Regions from separate parts of the Homo sapiens genome. Here region 1 is linked to region 2. Evidence: fine-mapped QTL for protein levels in blood plasma. A gene starts in region 2. The other region holds a variant in brackets. All regions are shown on one strand. Distances are between the middles of the regions.

What was found. A credible set is the group of variants that fine-mapping cannot tell apart. PIP is the chance, under the fine-mapping model, that this variant and not a neighbour inherited with it causes the effect. Protein levels are from antibody-based Olink assays in UK Biobank. Linkage for the fine-mapping came from a reference panel and not from the study's own genotypes, which makes the PIPs less certain.
Region 1: its variant is the best candidate, but not a certain one, in a credible set for the plasma level of the CASP10 protein (UK Biobank, PIP 0.63). The variant lies in the coding sequence of CASP10. If it changes the protein, the assay may bind it differently, which can mimic a change of level.

What each region holds. Positions count from the first base shown.
Region 1 is chr2:201,209,270-201,218,964 of GRCh38, reverse strand. CASP10 (caspase 10) reads right to left here. Exons shown (of 10, transcript NM_032977.4): 9 at 9,403-9,695; 10 at 1-1,377. The coding sequence ends at 1,224. It also overlaps the pseudogene MTND5P25, the pseudogene MTND4P23 and the pseudogene MTND4LP13. Among named protein-coding and RNA genes, the nearest start is that of CASP10, 31 kb to the right of the region's middle. The variant T/C (reference allele first, on the strand shown) is at 9,481.
Region 2 is chr2:201,181,502-201,190,991 of GRCh38, reverse strand. It overlaps CASP10 (caspase 10), which reads right to left and starts at 7,851. Exons shown (of 10, transcript NM_032977.4): 1 at 7,684-7,851; 2 at 4,868-5,221; 3 at 3,193-3,286. The coding sequence starts at 5,214.

The DNA.
Region 1 (9,695 bases), 28 kb before region 2:
TGTAAAGTTTCTGCTTGCAGAGCAGCTGAGTGTAAATGAGCCATCATCTTCCTACAGGGAAACCTGTCTCTAACCAAATAAAAACTTCCTATGTGAGCACCTTCCTTACACAAAAGCAGGAAATGGGCCTGGCATAGACCAAATTTTCACCTCACTAGATGTGCAAAAGAGAAGTCTTAGGAAGGGGGAGATCAGAGAGAGGGTGGGTGGACTGTGACCTCACTGTCCAATGTTTAAGGGCATGCAGAGGGGACACAGAATTATAACTAAGGGGTAGTTGTCTAGAGAGGCAATCTAAGCTCAATCTAGGCTAAGAACGTGGTTTTTGAACACCAAGGAACCTTAAAATGCACCTGGTCCCCAGGCCAGGCACAGTATTTCATGCCTGTAGTCCCAGAACTTTGAGAAGCTGAGGTGGGAGGATCGCTTGAGCCCAGGAGTTTGAGACCAGCTTAGGCAACATAGTGAAACCCCATCTCCACAAAAAAAATAAAAAGTTAGCTGTGCATGGACACACACCTGTAGTCTCAGCTACTTGGGAGGCTGAGGTGGGAGGATCGCTTGAACCTGGGAGGTCAAGGCTGCAGTGAACAGTGATCCCACCACTGCACTCCAGCCCAGGTGACGGAGTGACTCTGTCTCAAAGAAAAAGTACCTGCACAAACCAAAGCCAATTACTCTGTCTTCAGAATAGACATCCAAAACCAAGGCTACAATCCAAGTCTTCAATAATGAAAGTTTTCTGGCCAGGTGTGGTGGCTCGTGCCTATAATCCCAGTATTTTGGGGACAGAGGTGGGAGGATCACTTGGGCCTAGGAGTTTGAAACCAGCCTGTGCAACAAAGTGAGATCCCTCCATCTCTACAAAAAATAAAGAATAAAAAAAATCCGGGCACGGTGGTACACACCTGTGGTCCCAGCTACTTGGGAAGCTGAGGCGGGAGGACAGCTTGAGCCTGGGAGGTCGAGACTACAGTGAGCCGTGATTGCCCCCCTGCACTCCAGTCTGGGTGACAGAATGAGACTATCTCCAAAAAAAAGAAAGTTTTCTAACATTTAGACTTGCAAAAGAAAAAGAAAATCAGAATTGACTGTGTCAGAAAACACGGTGTTTCCTGTTTCTAGAATGACAGGTGGAGACCACCGATTCCTGTGCTGGGCAGGAGGCTGGAGGTTATAGCCAATGATTCGTTTGAGGTCTAAGAACCAACAAAAACTCTCTGCTATAATGAAAGTGCATCCAGGGGCACAGGGAATACTAGTTTTTTCCTTAGTGTGAAAGCAGGCTGGGGCATCTGTTTCTTTGTTCCCTGTTTGTCCACTCTTCGACTCACATCATCGTTGACAGCAGTGAGGATGGATAAGATGTCTTCATGTCTGCAACAAAGAAGAAAACAAAATTTTTTTTTACGGAGTCTCACTCTGTCGCCCAGGCTGGAGTGCAGTGGTGTGATCTCAGCTCACTGCAGCCTCCACCTCCTGGATTCAAGTGATTCTCATGCCTCAGCCTCCCGAGTAGCTGGGATTACAGGTGCCTGCCACCACAATTGGCTAATTAGTAAAGATGGGGTTTCACCATATTGCTTGCCCAGGCTGGTCTCGAACCCCTGACCTCAGGTGATCCACCCACCTCGGCCTCCCAAAGTGCTGGGATTACAGGCATGAGCCACTGTGCCTGGCCCAGAGAAGAAACTTTTTTCAGTCAGGAGGTAGAAACCACACACCAGGTCTTAGAAAAGACACCAGGTACCATGTACCAGGTCTTAGATCAACAAATATGCAGCAGATGCCACAGATACCAACAATGCCCTCTCTATCTGTAGTCTTGGGAGAGATACAAAGATAGACATGACACAATTCCTGAAGTTAACCACTTAGAATGCAGATATGAAACATTTACCGAGGATGGCATATACACAATATTCATAACACAAGGCAGAATGTGGTCAACACCAAATGAAAGGTCAAGGTTCCACTGCAAGTTCAGAGGAGAATGCATTTCTGGTTGGGAGGGAGAGAGAAGGCTTCATGCAGATGGTAGCATTTGAGCCTGGGCTTGCAGGACATATAGCATTTAGCAGAACGTTCTCAGGGTAGGCAATACATATCACTGGAAGCAAGCACAGGTTCTGAAAACACATTCAATTTTAAATTGTGGCTCCATCATTCATTCATTGTGTGCTCTTAGGCTGGTTACTCACTGCTCCATGCCTCGGTTTTCCCAGCTCTAAAATAGGAACCATAACAGTCCCCATCTTAGGGGTTGCCGAGAGCATTAAAGGATGTATATTGGGTCAAGCACTTAGAACACTGGCTACACTGTTCTGCTGACCATCATTTTTAGTATTAGTATGACTACTCTCATCCCCTCATCCTTAACTATCACTATTTTTCAGGGAAGGGATGCAGGCCCTTACCTGCTCTCAATCCCTGCATCTTGCTTTGCACCTGCTCTCTATTCCCAAATCTTCCTGTGTCTGTTTCCTTCTTATCATTTAGTCTCACCTGAAATATTACCTCCACCAAGAAACTACCATTATCCTGTTTTGATTTGTTCATGGCAGGGATCACTTCCTGAAATTGCCTCTTTTTGTTAGAGACAGGATCTCGCTCTGTTGCCCAGGCTAGAATGCGGTAATGCGATTGTAGTTCACTACAGCCTCAAACTTCTGGGCTTAAGCAATCCTCCCACTTCAGACTCCCTAATAGCTAGGACTACAGGTGCATGCCACCACACCTGGCTAATTTTTTCTTATTAATTTAAATATTATTTAAATTAATATTAAATAATAATTGAATAATAAAATTATTAAATAAATATTAAACAATTAAAATATCATTAACTTAAATATTAAACACTGAAAACTATAAAACATTGATGAAAGAAAGTGAAGAGGACACAAATAAATGGAAAGATATCTCGTGTTCATGGGTTAGAAGAATAATCTTGTTAAAATGACCATACTACCCAAGGTGACCTACAGATTTAATGCAGTCCCTATCAAAATACCAGTGACAAGCCAAGTGCAGTGGCAAATGCCTGTAGTCCTAGCTACTCAGGAGTCTGAGGTGGGAGGATTGCTTGAGCCCAGGAGTTCAAGTCTAGCCTGGACAACATAACAAGACCCCATCTCTAAAACAAAACAAAACAAAAACAAACAAAAAAATTACATTCTTCACATAAATAGGGAAAAAAACCCTAAAATGTATATGGAACCACAAAAGACCCCAAATAGTGAAAGCAATGCTGAGCAAAAAGAACAAAACTGGAGGCATCCCACCACCTGACTTCAAAATATACTACAAATCTAGAGTTACCAAAACAGCATGGTAGTGGTATAAAAACAGACACATAGATCAATAGAACAGAATATAGATCCCAGAAATAAATTCACACACCTACAGCCAACTGATTTTTGACAAAGGTGCCCAGAACACACAATAGGTAAAAGAGAATCTCTTCAAAAAACGGTGCTGGGAAAATTGAATATCCATACACAGAAAAATGAGACTAACCACTTACCTCTCACCATAAACAAAAACCAACTCAAAATGTGTAAGACTTAAATGTAAAACCTGAAACTATGAAGCTGCTGCAAGAAAACAGGGCAAACATATCATGACATTGGGTTGGGCAAGGATTTTTAAAACAAGACTTCAAAAGCACAGACAACAAAAGCAAAAATAGACAAATGAGTTTACATCAAATTAAAACCCTTTTGCACGGCAAAAAAAAAAAAAAAAAAAAAAAAACCGAGGGAAGAGACAACCTACAAAATAGGAAAAAAATTTGCAAATTATACATCTCACAAGGAGTTAATATTTAGAATACATAAGGAACTTAAATAACTCAACAGCAAAAAAACAAATAACCCCATTTAAAAATGGGCAAAAGACTTTAACAGACATTTCTCAAAAGAAGACATACAAATGGTCCACAGGTATAAGAAAAAAATAAGTAGTTTAAGGCAAAATAAATGATTTCATTAGATTATGATAGAACATACTTACCAAATGCCCTCTATTTACATAAGTATCATATTAGCATTTATCATATCACTTCTGGGGGTATTAGTCTATCAGTCCCACCTAATATCATCCCTCCTATGCCTAGAAGGAATAATATTATCATTATTCATAGTAAATACCCTTATAGCTTTAAATATACACTTCACCCTAGCAAATGTAATACCCATTACTCTACCAGTATTTGCTGCCTGCAAAGCCAGGGTAGGCCTTGCTTTGCTACTTTCAATTTCCAACATATATGGCTTAGACTACATACATAACCTAAATTTACTTCAATGCTAAAAATAACTATTCCTACAATTATACTACTACCAATAACATGACTCTCTAAAAATTATACAATTTGAATCAATATGGCTACCCACAGCCTAATCACCAGCTTCATTGCCCTATTATTCTTTAACTAATTCAACGACAATCTATTCAACTTCTCATTAACTTTCTCCTCTGATCCGCTAACATCACCCCTTCTAATCTTAACAGCCTGACTACTACCTCTTATAACTATAGCAAGCCAGTACCACCTCTCCAGTGAATCACCCCTATGGAAAAAACCCTGTATTTCCATATTAATTTCCCTACAAATTTTTCTAATCATAGCATTTACAGCCACAGAACTAATTATATTTTATATTCTCTTTGAAGCTACACTTATCCCTATCTTAATTATTATCACCCGATGGGGTAACCAACCAGAACGCCTCAATGCAGGTACATATCTCTTATTTTACACACTAGTGGGATCCCTCCCCCTACTTATTACACTTATTTATGCCCAAAATATCCTAGGCTCACTGAGCATGATAATAATAACATTTAATATCAAGAACTACCAATCTCCTGATCCAACAATCTCATGTGATTGGCATGTATAATGGCCTTCATAGTAAAAATACCCCTATACTGACTTCACCTATGACTTCCCAAAGCCCATGTATAAGCACCTAAGGCTGGCTCAATAGTACTTGCAGCAGTGCTCCTAAAATTGGGCGGCTACACAAAATGCGACTTACCCTCATCCTCAGCCCTCTGACAGAACATATAGCCTATCCTTTCCTGATATTATCCTTATGAGGCATATTATGACAAGCTCCATCTGTCTACGACAAACTGATCTAAAGTCACTTATTGCACATTCCTCCGTAAGCCACATGGTACTTGTTACTGTGGCTATCCTCATTCAAACCCCCTGAAGTTTTACCAGTGCAATTATCCTCATAATTCCCCATGGACTTACTTCGTCCCTACTATTCTGCCTAGCAAATTCAAACTACAAGTGAATCCACAGCTGAATCATATTACTCTCTCGAGGACGTCAAACATTACTTCCACTAGTAACCTTTTGATGACTTACAGCAAATCTCACCAACCTTGCCCTACCCCCCACTATTAATCTAGTAGGAGAACTCCTTGTAACAACGGCTTCATTCTCCTGATCAAACACTACCATCATGCTTATAGGACTTAATATATTAATCACAGCCCTTTATTCCCTCTATATACTTGTCACAACACAACAAGGAACACTAACATACTATATTAACAGCATTAAACCTTCCTTTACACGAGAAAACATACTAATACTCATACACCTTTCACCAATTCTCTTACTATCTCTAAATCCTAAAATTATTATAGGACTTATACCTTGTAAATATAGTTTAATCAAAATGTTAGATTGTGGTCTAATAATAGAAGTCCGCAACTTCTTATTTACCGATAAAGTTTGCAAGAACTGCTAACTCATGCCTCCATGCCTAACAACATAGTTTTCTCAACTTTTAGAGGATGAGAGTTATCCATTGGTCTTAGGAACCAAAAATATTGGTGCAACTCCAAATAAAAGTAATAATCATGTATTTTTCCATTACTATAATAACCTTAATCTCCTTAACCTTACCAATTATTATTACCTTTATCAACCCTCACAAAAAGAACTCATATCCATACTATGTAAAAATAGCTGTCGCATGCACTTTCACCATTAGCCTCATTCCCACAACATTTATGTGTACAGACCAAGAAACCATCATCTCAAACTGATATTGAATAACAATCCAAACCCTAAAACTCTCATTAAGCTTCAAACTAGACTAATTCTCCATAATGTTTATTCTAGTAGCACTATTTATCACTTGATCTATTATAGAATTCTCAATATGATATATGAAGGCAGATCTGAACATTAATCAGTTTTTCAAATACCTACTTATTTTCCTCACCACAATATTAATTCTAGTTACTGCCAACAACATTTTCCAACTCTTTATCAGATGAGAGGGTGTAGGAATTATATCTTTTCTACTAATTGGCTGATGACATGGCCAAGCAGATGCTAACACAGCAGCCCTCCAAGCAATTCTATACAATCGCATTGGTGACATTGGCTTTATTTTAGCTATAGCATGATTCCTCTCATCATCCAATACATGAGAGCCTCAACAAATACTTATCCTTAACCCTACCCCCAACCTTCTTCCATTAATTGGTTTTCTCTTAGCAGCAGCAGGAAAATCAGCCCAACTTGGCCTCCACCCCTGACTTCCTTCCGCCTTGGAAGGCCCAACCCCAGTCTCAGCCCTACTTCACTCTAGCACTATAGTTGTGGTGGGAGTTTTCCTACTTACCCGCTTCCACCCCTCAACATCACTAATCATCACGGAAATGCAAATCAAAACCACAGTGACAGCTGGGCGCCGTGGCTCACGCCTGTAATACCAGCACTTTGGGAGGCTGAGGTGGGTGGATCACTTGAGATCAGGAGTTCCAGACCAGCCTGGCCAACGTGGTAAAACCCTGTCTCTACTAAAAATACAAAAATTAGCCAGGCGTGGTGGCACATGCCTGTGATCCCAGCTACTCGGGAGACTGAGGCAGAAGAATTGCTTGAACCTAGGAGGCAGAGGCTGCAGTGAGCTGAGATTGCGCCACTGCACTCCAGCCTGACAGAGCAAGATGTTGTCTAAAAAAAAATAAAAATAAAAATAAAAAACCCACAGTGAGATGCTACTTCACTCAAGTTAGAATGGCTATTATCGAGGAAACAAAAGAAAACACATATTGGCAAAGATCTGGAGAAAAGGGAACACTTACACACTGTTGGTGGTATTGAAAATTAGTACAGCCATTATGGAAAATAGTATGCCAGTTCCTCATAAAATGAAAAATAAAAATACTATATGATCCAGCAATCCCCATACTAAGTATATAAACAAAGAAAATGCAATCAATATGTCAGAGAGATATCTGCACTCCCAGTTTACTGCAGCATTATTTACAATAGCCAAGATATGGAATCAACCTAAGGGTCCAAAAATGGATATATGGATAAAGAAAATGTGATATTTATACGTGACAGAATACCATTCAGCCATAAAAAAAGAAAATCCTGACATGTCTGACAACATGAATGAGCCCAGAGTGAAATAAGCAAGACACAGAAAAAATCTGCTTGTTCTCACTCATGTGGAATCTTTGTTTAAAAAGTTGATGTCATAGAAGCAGTGATTAGAACAGCAATTACAAAGATGAGAGAGAGAAGGAGGGAAGGGAAGATGAGAGGTTAGTCAATGGGTACAAAGTTACAATTAGATAGGAGAAATAACCTCTGGTGTTCTGCTGCACAGTGGGGTGACTATGGTTAACAGTAAGGCATTCTGAGCTGGGCACTGTGGTTTGAGCATATAATCCTAGCTACTTACAAGGCTAAGGCAGGAAGATTGCTTGAGCCTAGGAGTTCAAGGCCAGCCTCGGCAACATGGTGAGATCCCATATTTAAATCAATCGATCAATCAGTAAGGTGTTGTATATTACAAAATAGCTACAAGAGAGGCTTTTAGAGGTTCTCACCACAAAGAAATGATAAATGCATGAGGTGATGGATACACTAACTACCCTGATTTGATCATTATACAACACATATATGTATTGAAACATCAAATTATAACCCTGAAATATGTAGTTATGAAGTATCAATTAAAAATAACAGAAATTTCTGGAGTACCAAAAAAAACCACACATTGCTTAATCATGCATGTATACTGTCTCCTTTTAATATTGTTGAATTTTTAAAATAATAATAATTTAAATATTCACTTATATTTTTATTATCTGTCCTTCCTTCACTGGACTTTTAGCTCCCTGGAGAGCAGATTTTGTCTCTCTTGTACACAGTTGCACCCCCTGTCCCCAGTTCGGTACCCAGTACAGTAAGCACATAGTACGCTCTCAATAAATATTGCCTTGTTCCTGAAGCCATAGACATTAGCCTCTGATGTCTGTGATGAGAATGGAGGGGCTGGTAAAGAAGAGAGAAAAGCAAAGTTGACTCAAGGTTCCAATCCTGAATTCCCAGAAGAGCACTATGGCCATTCCTTCAAATGGAAATTCAGGAGTAGGAGCTCCTGGAGAGAGCTGGGAAGATGAGCTCAGAAACATGCATGCTGAATGTGAGGTCCAAGGGCTAAACAGAGGTAGGATATCTAGCGGGATGTTAATGAGACAGGCTCAAGCAAGTCATTCATTGGCCCAGCAAATGTTTAACAAGCTCACAATATATCAGGTCAGGGGCTGAGGATATAAAGTTGAATGAAACAGGGTCTCTGCCCCCAGGAATTCAGAGATGAGTGGGCCAGAGATGGCAACTTTGGAGACGTTTTCATGGAGGAGCCCATGGCCTCTAGGTATGGCTAAAGGTGCCAAGAGGACAGCATGTGGCAGAGACAGAAGGGAAGCTGTCAGAGCAGTGGCAAATAGAAGTCCAAAGATAGCACATAGGTGCTCAGGACGTAAGAGTGAGTGATAAATAAACGAACAAATAAAAGGCCCCCATGCTTTTGTTCATGCTATTCCCTCTGCCCAGCACATCTTTCACCTGATTCTTTACCTAACATCTATTTGTCATTTCTAGAAGCCTCCTCTGATCCTTCAAATCTGGGCAAGGTACTCATTCTGCATGTTCCCATAACACCTATACTTCACAATGTGCACTTACCAGCTGGGGATGCCCTTCCCCGTCTATTTGTTTGTCTATCCCTCTAGCTTGTAAGCAACCTGAGGGCAAGGACTCTGTCTTTTTTTAACTCTGTATCTTCCTTTCCAGGTCCAGGCTGGTACTCAATACAAGGTTGCTGGATGGATGGATGGATGGACAGATGGATGGATGGATAGATGAATGGGTGGATAGATGGATGGATAGATGAATGGGTGGATAGATGGATAAATAGATAAACAGGAGGGTAGGCAGATGGTTGAACAGGTACATGGATAGAACAACGTAGAACTCTCACCCTTACCAAAGGTGTTGAATGAGAGTAAAATAAAAAATAAATAAAACTAATTAATTACAAATGGAAGAAAAAAAAGAGCTCTCACCTTGGGACCAATTTCTTCAGATGATTACACAGAGACTGAATATACCAGCTGCCTTCCTCCACATGCCGAAAGGATACA[T/C]AGCCTGGGACAGTGGCCAGACCAAGTAGGAAGTCAGCCTCGGCAGGAATACTGTCCTGCAGGGAAGTGGGTGCCTGCTCAGGGTTCAGAGCATCTGCTTCGATGGATACGGAAGGCTGTATCTCTTCACCTTGGCAGGCCTGGATGAAAAAGAGTTTAGGTTTTTCAGCCAGTCTAGGGCACTGCAGGGCTGTGAAGTGAGACATGATCTCCCG
Region 2 (9,490 bases):
TACTCAGGAGGCTGAGGCAGGAGGATCACTTGAACCCAGGAGGCAGAGGTTGCAGTGAGCCGAGATGGCACCATTGCACTCCAGACTGGGCAACAAGAGTGAAACTCTGTCTAAAAATAATAATAATAATAATAATAATAATTCTGTAGCCACAGATGCCTTCAAGTAGAGTTCTAGAACCTGTGCAAGCAAAAGAGAAAAAAAAACATTTTCCAGCTTTTCTTGTTTGAAAACTAACACTCAGTGTTTCGAATATCAGAGATTGCTTTAACAAATGACCTTTCTCTCGTCCCTCACCCGCCACCTCATATTGTTCAGAGAGTCCCTAACATAGGACGGGGTATAACAATAAAAAGTGGTCTCATTTTATGTATAAACCTAGACACTGGAAAATTTGTGAGCGGATGCCCCAACTTGGGAGAGAATGTTATGAAAACCACCTGGAGCGCTTGTCAAACTACAGGAATCTCCTCTGACTTTGAGAAATTCTGTATTTAAGGTATAATGCTACCATTTGAGCAGGTAATTGCTTTGTACCACTGCAAATGTGGGCACTGAAATTTTACGGCAAAAGCAGAAGATCCTTACAATGTTTTATAAAAAAGAATTCCCTAAAACAAAATCGCCTGATTTTTAAAATTCTCCAAGAATTACTGAACCTTTAGGTCATGTGTGTGTGTGCATGTGTGTGTGTGTGTGTATACATATGTGTATATACGTAGTGTGTGCATATATATTTACTCAAAAGCAATGAGCATGCCAGCATCGAGTTTGTGGTCTTGAAATGACATCTCTCATTAAAAGAAGTCAGGATTTTTGGGAGAAATGAGAGATTCCAGGACTGGGTAGAAAATATACAAGATGAACCTGGGATATTTTTGCCAGATAGTAAAGAAGCCATCAAAGACTACTAAGGTCATGTCAAAATGACTTAGGAACCAAACTGAAGATGTATCCCCTGGGAAAAAATGGGACAATTGAACTATTTTTTTGAGACAGGGTCTCACTCTGTTACCCAGGCTGGAGTGCAATGGCACAGCCATTGCTCACTGCAGCCTTGACTTCTCTGGGCTCGAGCGATCCTCCCATGTCAGCCTCCTGAGGAGCTGGGACTACAGGTGCACGCCACCACACCCAGCTAATTTTTGTATTTTTTGTAGAGACCGGGTTTTGTCATGTTGCCCAGTCTAGTCTCAAACTCCTGAGGCTCAAGTGACCTGTCCACCTCAGACTCCCAAAGTGCTGGGATTACAGGCATGAGCCACCATGCCCAGCCTCAGTTTGAACTTCAGTAAGGATAATAATTGCAGTAGATTGAAATACCTCACATATGTTTAAATCCATGAGTTTAAATTTATATATATTTTGTAATGGGTCACCTTCAGAGAATGATAAGATACCAATTAACTTAAAAACTGGATAACTAGGCAAAGCACAGTGGTTCATGCCTGTAATCCCCAGAACTTTGGGAGGCTGAGGCAGGTAGATCACTTGAGGTCAAGAATTTGAGACCAACCTGGCCAAATGAAACCCTGTCTCTACTAAAAATACAAAAATTAGACAGGCATGGTGGTGCCTGCTTGTAATCCCAGATATTCAGGAGGCTGAGGCAGGAGAATCACCTGAACCTGGGAGGCAGAGGTTGCAGTGAGCCAAGATCACACCACTGAACTCCAGCCTGGATGACCAAGTGAGACACCGTCTCAAAAAAAAAAAAAAAATAACTGAAAGAAAAGAATCAAGGATTCACATATAAGCTGTATCACTGGGTAACCAAATAATGGATGAAGGGAAAACGAAATGATACAATTCTAATATGTGGCCGGGTATGGTGGCTCACACTTGTAATCTCAGCACTTTGGGAGGCCGAGACGGGTGGATCACCTAAAGTCAGGAGTTCCAGACCAGCCTAGCCAATATGGTGAAACCCTATCTCTACTAAAAATACAAAAAGTTAGCCAGGCGTAGTGGCAGGCTGCTGTAATCCCAGCTACTCAGGAGGCTGAGGCAGGAGAATCGCTTGAACCCAGGAGGCAGAGGTTGTAGTGAGCTGAAATTGTGCCATTGCACTTCAGCCTGGGTGACAAGAGTGAGACTCCATCTCAAAAAAAAAAAAAAATTCTAATATCTCCATTTTTGCAACCCCTCAAAATTCAATATATAAAATGGTTGAACATCAACAGTTGCTAATATCAAAGAAAAAGAGAGAGAAAATCAGGTACCTCCTGATGAAAAAACAAGACTACCTATAGTCTTGCCAAACGGATCTGACCTGAGTCTGATGAAGCCTCTGGATTCAGCTGCCAGTCTGCAGGAAATGCAGAGGACAGAGGAACATGCCAAACTGCACCACGAGTGTGCAATCAGCAAAACTCAGCCTGTGAGAAACTCCACAGGCCAACCGCCCAGAGATTCTTCAACAGATACATTTTAAGAAAAAGAAAGAGATTTGGGGGCAGGGAGGAAATCTAACCTACAGATTAAAAGGCACTTGAAAGAAAAAACTGGACAAGGCCAGGTGCGGTGACTCACACCTGTAATCCCAACACTTTGGGAGGCCAAGGCAGGCAGATCACTTGAAGTCAGGAGTTCTAGACCAGCCTGCCCAACAGGGTGAAACCCTGTCTGTACTAAAAATACAAAAATTAGCTGGGCATGGTGGTGCATGCCTGTAATCCCAGCTACTAGGGAGGCTGAGGTAGGAGAATGGCTTGAACCCAGGAGGTGGAGGTTGCAGTGAGCTGAGATCATGCCACTGCACTCCAGCCTGGGCAACAAGGCAAGACTTCGTCTCAAAAAAAAACAAAAACAAAAACAAAACACAACAGATTCCAACAGAAGTGAGCATTTACTGAATGCTATACCAAATATTGGCCTCATGCTAATGCTTCATGAACATTATTCCAGCTAATTCTCCCAACAATCCTAGAAGGAAGTCATACGATTGCCCACAATTTTACGTCTAAGAAAATAGAGACTCAGAAAAGTTCAATCATTGGCCTCACAGCATGGGTTTAGAATTAGAATCAGGACCAGAATCTAGGCTCATCCAGCACCAAAGCCAATGTTCGTAACCATTGTATGATACTGTCTCCCATAAAAAATAAATCTCCCTAAAAACCCTTTCCAGCATCTTTCTAATCATTGATTAAGACAGTGCTCACACAGACCCATTCTGTATGACCCACTCACCATTTCAGTTTTGGGAAGCGAGTCTTTCAGAAGGAAGATCATGTCCTTTAAGTTCTCTGAGTCAATGCCTTCTGACAGTTCGTAGAGCAGGTTTCTAAGACACACACCCAAAATGACAAATAAAGCCTTACACTTGTGGAGGACACCATAATCAATCAAGTGCTTTCATAAATGTTTTCTGTCATTTGAATGATCAACTCTATGTGTAGACAATTATTAATCCCATTTATAGGTTCAAAAAATGAAAACTTTCAGTTTCTAAGTGACTTGTTTAAATAAAGATAACACAGTAAGTGGTAGAAGCAGGCCTTCTGACTCCAAGTCTAATGCTGTTTTTCACCACACTAAGAAGGCATATTTAAAAAAAAAAAGGCATAAAACACAATTCTGACATGCCTTCCCATCTCCTGATTCCATCAAGAAATTCAGGCTTACTTTACAGGCCCTTGGTAGATAGGACCCCAGGCCAGCCAAGGTACAGTCGGTTGTATATTGAAAAGGGAAGAAAACTACCCCAGCTTCGAGATATAATCCACAACCAGAAACAGTGAGGATTTCATCCACATACTAACACCCCTATGTGTCAGAGACTGTCCCTCAGATGTTTAGCCAGCAGAATGGAAATATGGATTTCTGGAATTCATCATTCCTTCCACTGACTCAAGGGCAACTCAGGTTCTGGAAGCCAGTTCCACCGCTAAGGCTTAATGTGTTCTAATCGCAGAGACCATAAAACACCCTCCAAAGGCTCCTCTTCGTGAGGTTCTCTGATGTGGACACTATGTCAGTGAACAATTTTAAACACTGTCATCAGCCTGGCACAGTGGCTCACACCTATAATCCCAGCACTTTGGGAGGCCGAGGTGCGTGGATCACTTGAGGCTAGGAGTTCCAGACCAGCCTGGCCAACATGTTGGAAACCCTGTCTCTACTAAAAATACAAAAATTAGCCAGGTGTGGTGGTGGGTGCCTGTAGTCCCAGCTACTCAGGAGGCTGAGGCAGGAGAATCGCTCGAACCCAGGAAGCGGAGGTTGCAGTGAGCTGAGATGGTGCCACTTCACTCCAGCCTGAGTGACAGAGCGAGACTCTGTCTCAAAATAAAAATAAAACGCTGTCATCCATGATAAGACCAATGCCTAAATTTTACCTCTTTGGGCAAAATGCCTGTTTTTACCTTTCTGGATTCCCACCCAAAAATATAGAAATTTCTATAACTAGACATGGCATAAATGACATCCCTCCCTACCCCAGAAACACATCTCTTTTTTCATCTTGCTTATTTCACTCCAAGTATGCATTACTCTCTTCTCAAGACCCCGGGAAACAGGTAGACAGACTAGTGGATCCCAGGAGGGAGAAGATCTGCACGTGTAGCCGCTGGTAAGCAGGGAAAACACGGGCTCTGCCACACTGAGGTGGGCTTCACTGCTAGTGAGAAGCAAAACAAAGGGAAGCCACCTCTGGGCCCAGGGCTTGGTCTTGAAGCTTTGCTGACCTCCCAACTCTTATCTCATTAGCATCAGAGGCTGAGAAGGAGGTTTAGAATCTCCTGGTTTATCATCCAAGGAGGTAGATAACCAAAAGATCTTAACTGCAGCTTCCTTTCAAAGCCCAATGGCCAGAATGAACACTAGATGGGAGATCCTCCCATCTCCACCACAGACCCGTCCTCACCTAAACAGAGAAACCCTTTGTCGGGTGGGCAGCAGTCGCTCCACTTCCTCTTTGGTACAGTTGAGGTGCTGCAGCAGCTTCTTCTGCCGTATGATATAGAGGAGTTCTGCCAGGAAGAAAGGGTCTTCCTCACTCAGCAGATCCTCTGCCAAGAGATGTTCAAAAACATCTGAGGCTGAGCTGGACTTCTCCAGCTTCTTGTTGGGGACCAATCCTATGCAGAGAAACTTGAGGTTCTCCACATCTTGGACCCCCAGGTTTGAATCAATAATCAGAAGCTTCTCACGAAAGCTCACTTTACAGTTTTTATCTGAACTGGAATACCAATGTTGACCTTGAGATTTCATGGCCAGCCTGAAAGGGACAGAGAGGTGGGGCAGGGAGTTAGAGAGTGAGGACATATGGCCCCCTGACTTCCCAGGCCCTCCCCTCACCACAACCTTCTCCGTTCTGGGCATTAGACTTTCCTAGAAGTGCTGAAAAATAAAAATTACGGCGAGGCTACTTCAAAAAGCAACAGCCCAGAAAACTTTTCCCCAACACTTGCAAGTTACTTTTTAGGAAACTTGGAGGGTGCTTATATTGGAATTCAATTCACCTTGATTTCTCCCAAATCAAAATGTTCCCAGAGAGAGAAAGTTAAGATGGAGGGACACAGCACAATTTTTCTCAAGCCTGGTAGCCTGATTGGAGCCCTTACATTCATTTCCAGCACGTGGCAGAAATAGCACTTGGCTCTATGCTTTAAGTTTTAGACACAAAGCAATCTGGGGGAGGCAGGGTTATCCTTATGATCTATCAACCCAAAGACAGCAAGGTACCGTGAGGTATGTGTGTTACATCTTAACTTCAGACTGCTACCTGTAAGAGGGCAGGCCTTTATCTTACAGAAAGGGAAGGCATAATCCTAGACCTCAAGCCTGAGCAACATGGCGAGACCTGGTCTCTACTAAAAATACAAAAAATTATCAGGGCATGGTGGCACATGCCTGTGGTCCCAACTACTCAGGAGGCCGAGGATGGAAGGATCATTTGAGCCTGGGGAGCACAGGTTGCAGTGAGCCATGATCATGCCACTGCACTTCACCCTGGGTGACAGAGTGAGACCCTGTTTCAAAAAGAAAAATAAATAAATAAAATATCCTAGACCTCAGGAGGAAAGGGTGGTTTTAGACAAGAGTTGCTCAAATCAGTGTAGGAAGTTAAAAATTACATGAGTCGGCTGCTCTGTCTATGGAGTAGCCATTCTTTTGTTTCTTTACTTCTCTAATAAACTTGTTTTCACTAAAAAAAAACAAATTACATGAGTCAATGTTTCCATCTGATCAGTTTATAAACTATGCTATTCTCTATACTAAATTTCATCATAATCAGAGGAGCAATGCAGTGATAAAATTTTCATTGTAATACTATTTATTCTATAAGCACTTGAGGTATGTAGTCAATATGCAGAACTTGGCTATTTTTAGAAACAAGAAAATACTTTATAAAGGAAGGAACAGGTGGGGTGTCATGGCTTACGCCTATAATCCCAGCACTTTGGGAGGCCAAGGCGGGTGGATCACTTGAGGCCAGGAGTTCAAGACCAGACTGGGCAACGTGGTAAAACCCCATCTCTACAAAAAATACAAAAATTAGCCAGGCATGGTGGTGCACGCCTGTGGTCCCAACTACTCAGAGGGCTGAAGCAGAAGGATCATTTGAGCCCCGGGGATGGAGGTTCCAGTGAGCCATGATTGTGCCACTGCACTCCACCCTGGGTGACAGAGCAAGACCCTGCCTCAAAAACAAAACAAAACAACAACAAAAAAACCTCCTAGACCTCAGAAGGAAAGGGTGATTTTAGACAAGAGTTGCTCAAATCAGCGAAGGAAGATAAAAATTACATGAGTCAATGTTTCCATCTGACTAGTCTATAAACTATGGTATTCTACATACTAAATTTCATTATAATCAGAGAAGCACTTCAGGAGACTGAGGCAGGTGGATCACTGTGAGGCCAGGAATTCGGGACAAGCCTGGGCAACACGGTGAAACCCCGTCTCTACAAAAAATACAAAAATTAGCTGGGCTTGGTGGTGTATGCCTGTGGTCCCAGCTTCATAGGAAGCTGAGATGGGAGGATTGCTTGAACCTGGGAGGCGGAAGTTGCAGTAAGCCAAGATTGTGCCACTGCACTCCAGCTTGAGTGCTGGAGGGTGAAAGAGGGAGACTCCGTCTCAAATAAATAAATAGATAAATAAATAAATAAATAAATAAATAAATAAAGGAAGGAAGACACAGCAAAAATCAAAACCTCCATAACAAACAGTGGTTATATCGAGGTGACATAACTATAGATAATACAAATTTCCTTCTGGGCTTCCAATTGAATTTCTCAAATTTTATGCATATGTGAGCATACACATTACTTTTGGTGTTAAAAGAAACAAAAAAATGTCATTTTTAATGTGATAATCCAGGGGATCTTCCCTGCTACTAGCCCTGAGGTCAAATGAGTGGTTTATTGGAGACACCTTTCTATTCTACCGCATCTAGCATTTGCCTTGTGGTTTCTTGACAATTCTGATCTCTAGTTTTAGTGAGTCTACCAAACTTTGTCTCTGTGAGCTAACATATTTCTGCCCCGGTAAAAGGCTATGTTGGAGGCTTCCGGATTTTTTAACTTTTGTTTTCCCAGGCATGACAAAGAAATCTAAGAAAAAATAGTGCCATTGCTGACAAGTTTTTGCAAGTTTCTACAACACGAAGCCATGAAGCAAAGGAAAAGATTCAAGCATGAGACTCTGGAGTAAGAAGGGTTGTTAATTACATACCTTCAGATCAAGCTCCACCAATCTTCTGGAAGTAAACGGTTCTCAGGGAAATTGCCTGAAAACAAAGTTTTAAAGAAAGTAGAATCCTCTGTGTGCTCCAAGGTCCAAAGAAGCTCCCATTTGCTTGGGAAGAGACTTCAAGACTTGCTGGTTGTTTAAGTGAAAACTGAATCTTCAGGACTGGGTAGCCTGATACTAGTTTCCTGCTGATGTCATCACTGCTTATCTGCCTTTTTCCCTCCCCTTTTCCAGGGTTAAGATAACTTTGACAAACAGCGTCTCCTAAAGGCTAATTTACAACTTTCTCACTGTAGAGCTTGGGGTTTCCCCAGGTAAAGCAAAAGCTTCCTAGAAACGAACCCGTGGAAGCCACAAAGTGCTTCAGGCTTTCCTTTGGATCTCCATTTCCTTGGTAAGTCAAAAAGGGAAGCATCTGTTTTCCTAACCAACTCCTTCCCCAAACACACTTCACTTTTCAAATAAAGCCAAAAAGCTCATGAAATAGTTGTCGGCCATGTTAACCCTTTCTTATGTCCACATGCAAATAAACAATGGAGCGATCTCCACTTACCGCAACCTCTGCCTCCTGTGTTCAAGTGATTCTCCTGCCTCAACCTCCCGAGTAGCTGGGATTACAAGCATGCGCCACCACGCCCGGCTAATTTTTTGTATTTTTAGTAGAGACGAGGTTTCACCATGTTGGCCAGGCTGGTCTCGAACTCCTGAGCTTGTGATCCACCCTCCTTGGCCTCCCAAAGTGCTGGGATTACAGGCATGGAGCCACCGTGCCCGGCCCACAAATAAAATTTTTAAAAGATAAAAGAAAAGTGGGGATTCACTTTCAGTCTTTGTGGGAGAAATTAAGAAATAAAAAGAAAAAGAAAGGAAAAAAAAAAGAAAAGTGGGGATGGTGAATTACAAGCCCATTTGGAGGTACCTGCAAGAGACTCAACAAATTTGTGGTAGGCAAAACTGACAGTATGTGTTCTCACAGCACATTCAAACCAGCAGGAAAGTGAGACTTTGAAGACATTATTTCTAATCATAAAAACAATACTGCACACTAATATTGCAACTACCATGTGCCAGGGCATTTACAAATATTTACTCATTTCACCATCCCAACAACACTGTAAGATAAATACTATTACTATGACTGCTGCTTTAACATGTGAAAACTAAGGCACAGAAAGGTTAATTAATTTGCCCAAGGTCACACAGTGAGCGGCTGGAAGAGCCAAGATTTAAACCAGCAAGTTTGGATCAAAGTCACTACACTATAATTAAGCTAACTCAAATGTGCAGCACTCTGGAAAGAGGTACAGAGTCTTAGAAAGATGTTTTATCTATGGGGAAAAAAAGCAAGATTTATGATGCTTTGATTAGCAAATGTATTAAAATGTCCTTTCCATGTCCTAGGCATCATTCAGAGAACTTCTGTGCTTAAGAAAGACAAGTCCTGGGGCCAGGTGCAGTGGCTCCCGCCTGTAATCCCAGCACTTTGGGAGGCTGAGGCAGGCGGATCACGAGACCAGCTTGGCCAAGATGGTGAAACGCTGTCTCTACTACAAATACAAAAAATTAGCTGGGCGTGGTGGCACACACCTGTAATCCTAGCTGCTCGGGAGGTTGAGGCAGGATAATCGCTTGAAGGCAGGAGGTGGAGGTTGCGGTGAGCGGATATCACGCCATCACACTCCAGCCTGGGCTACAGAGCAAGACTCCTTCTCAAAAAAAAAAAGAAAAGAAAAAGACAAGTCCTGGCCAGGCACAGTGGCTCACACCTGTAATCCCAGCACTTTGGGAG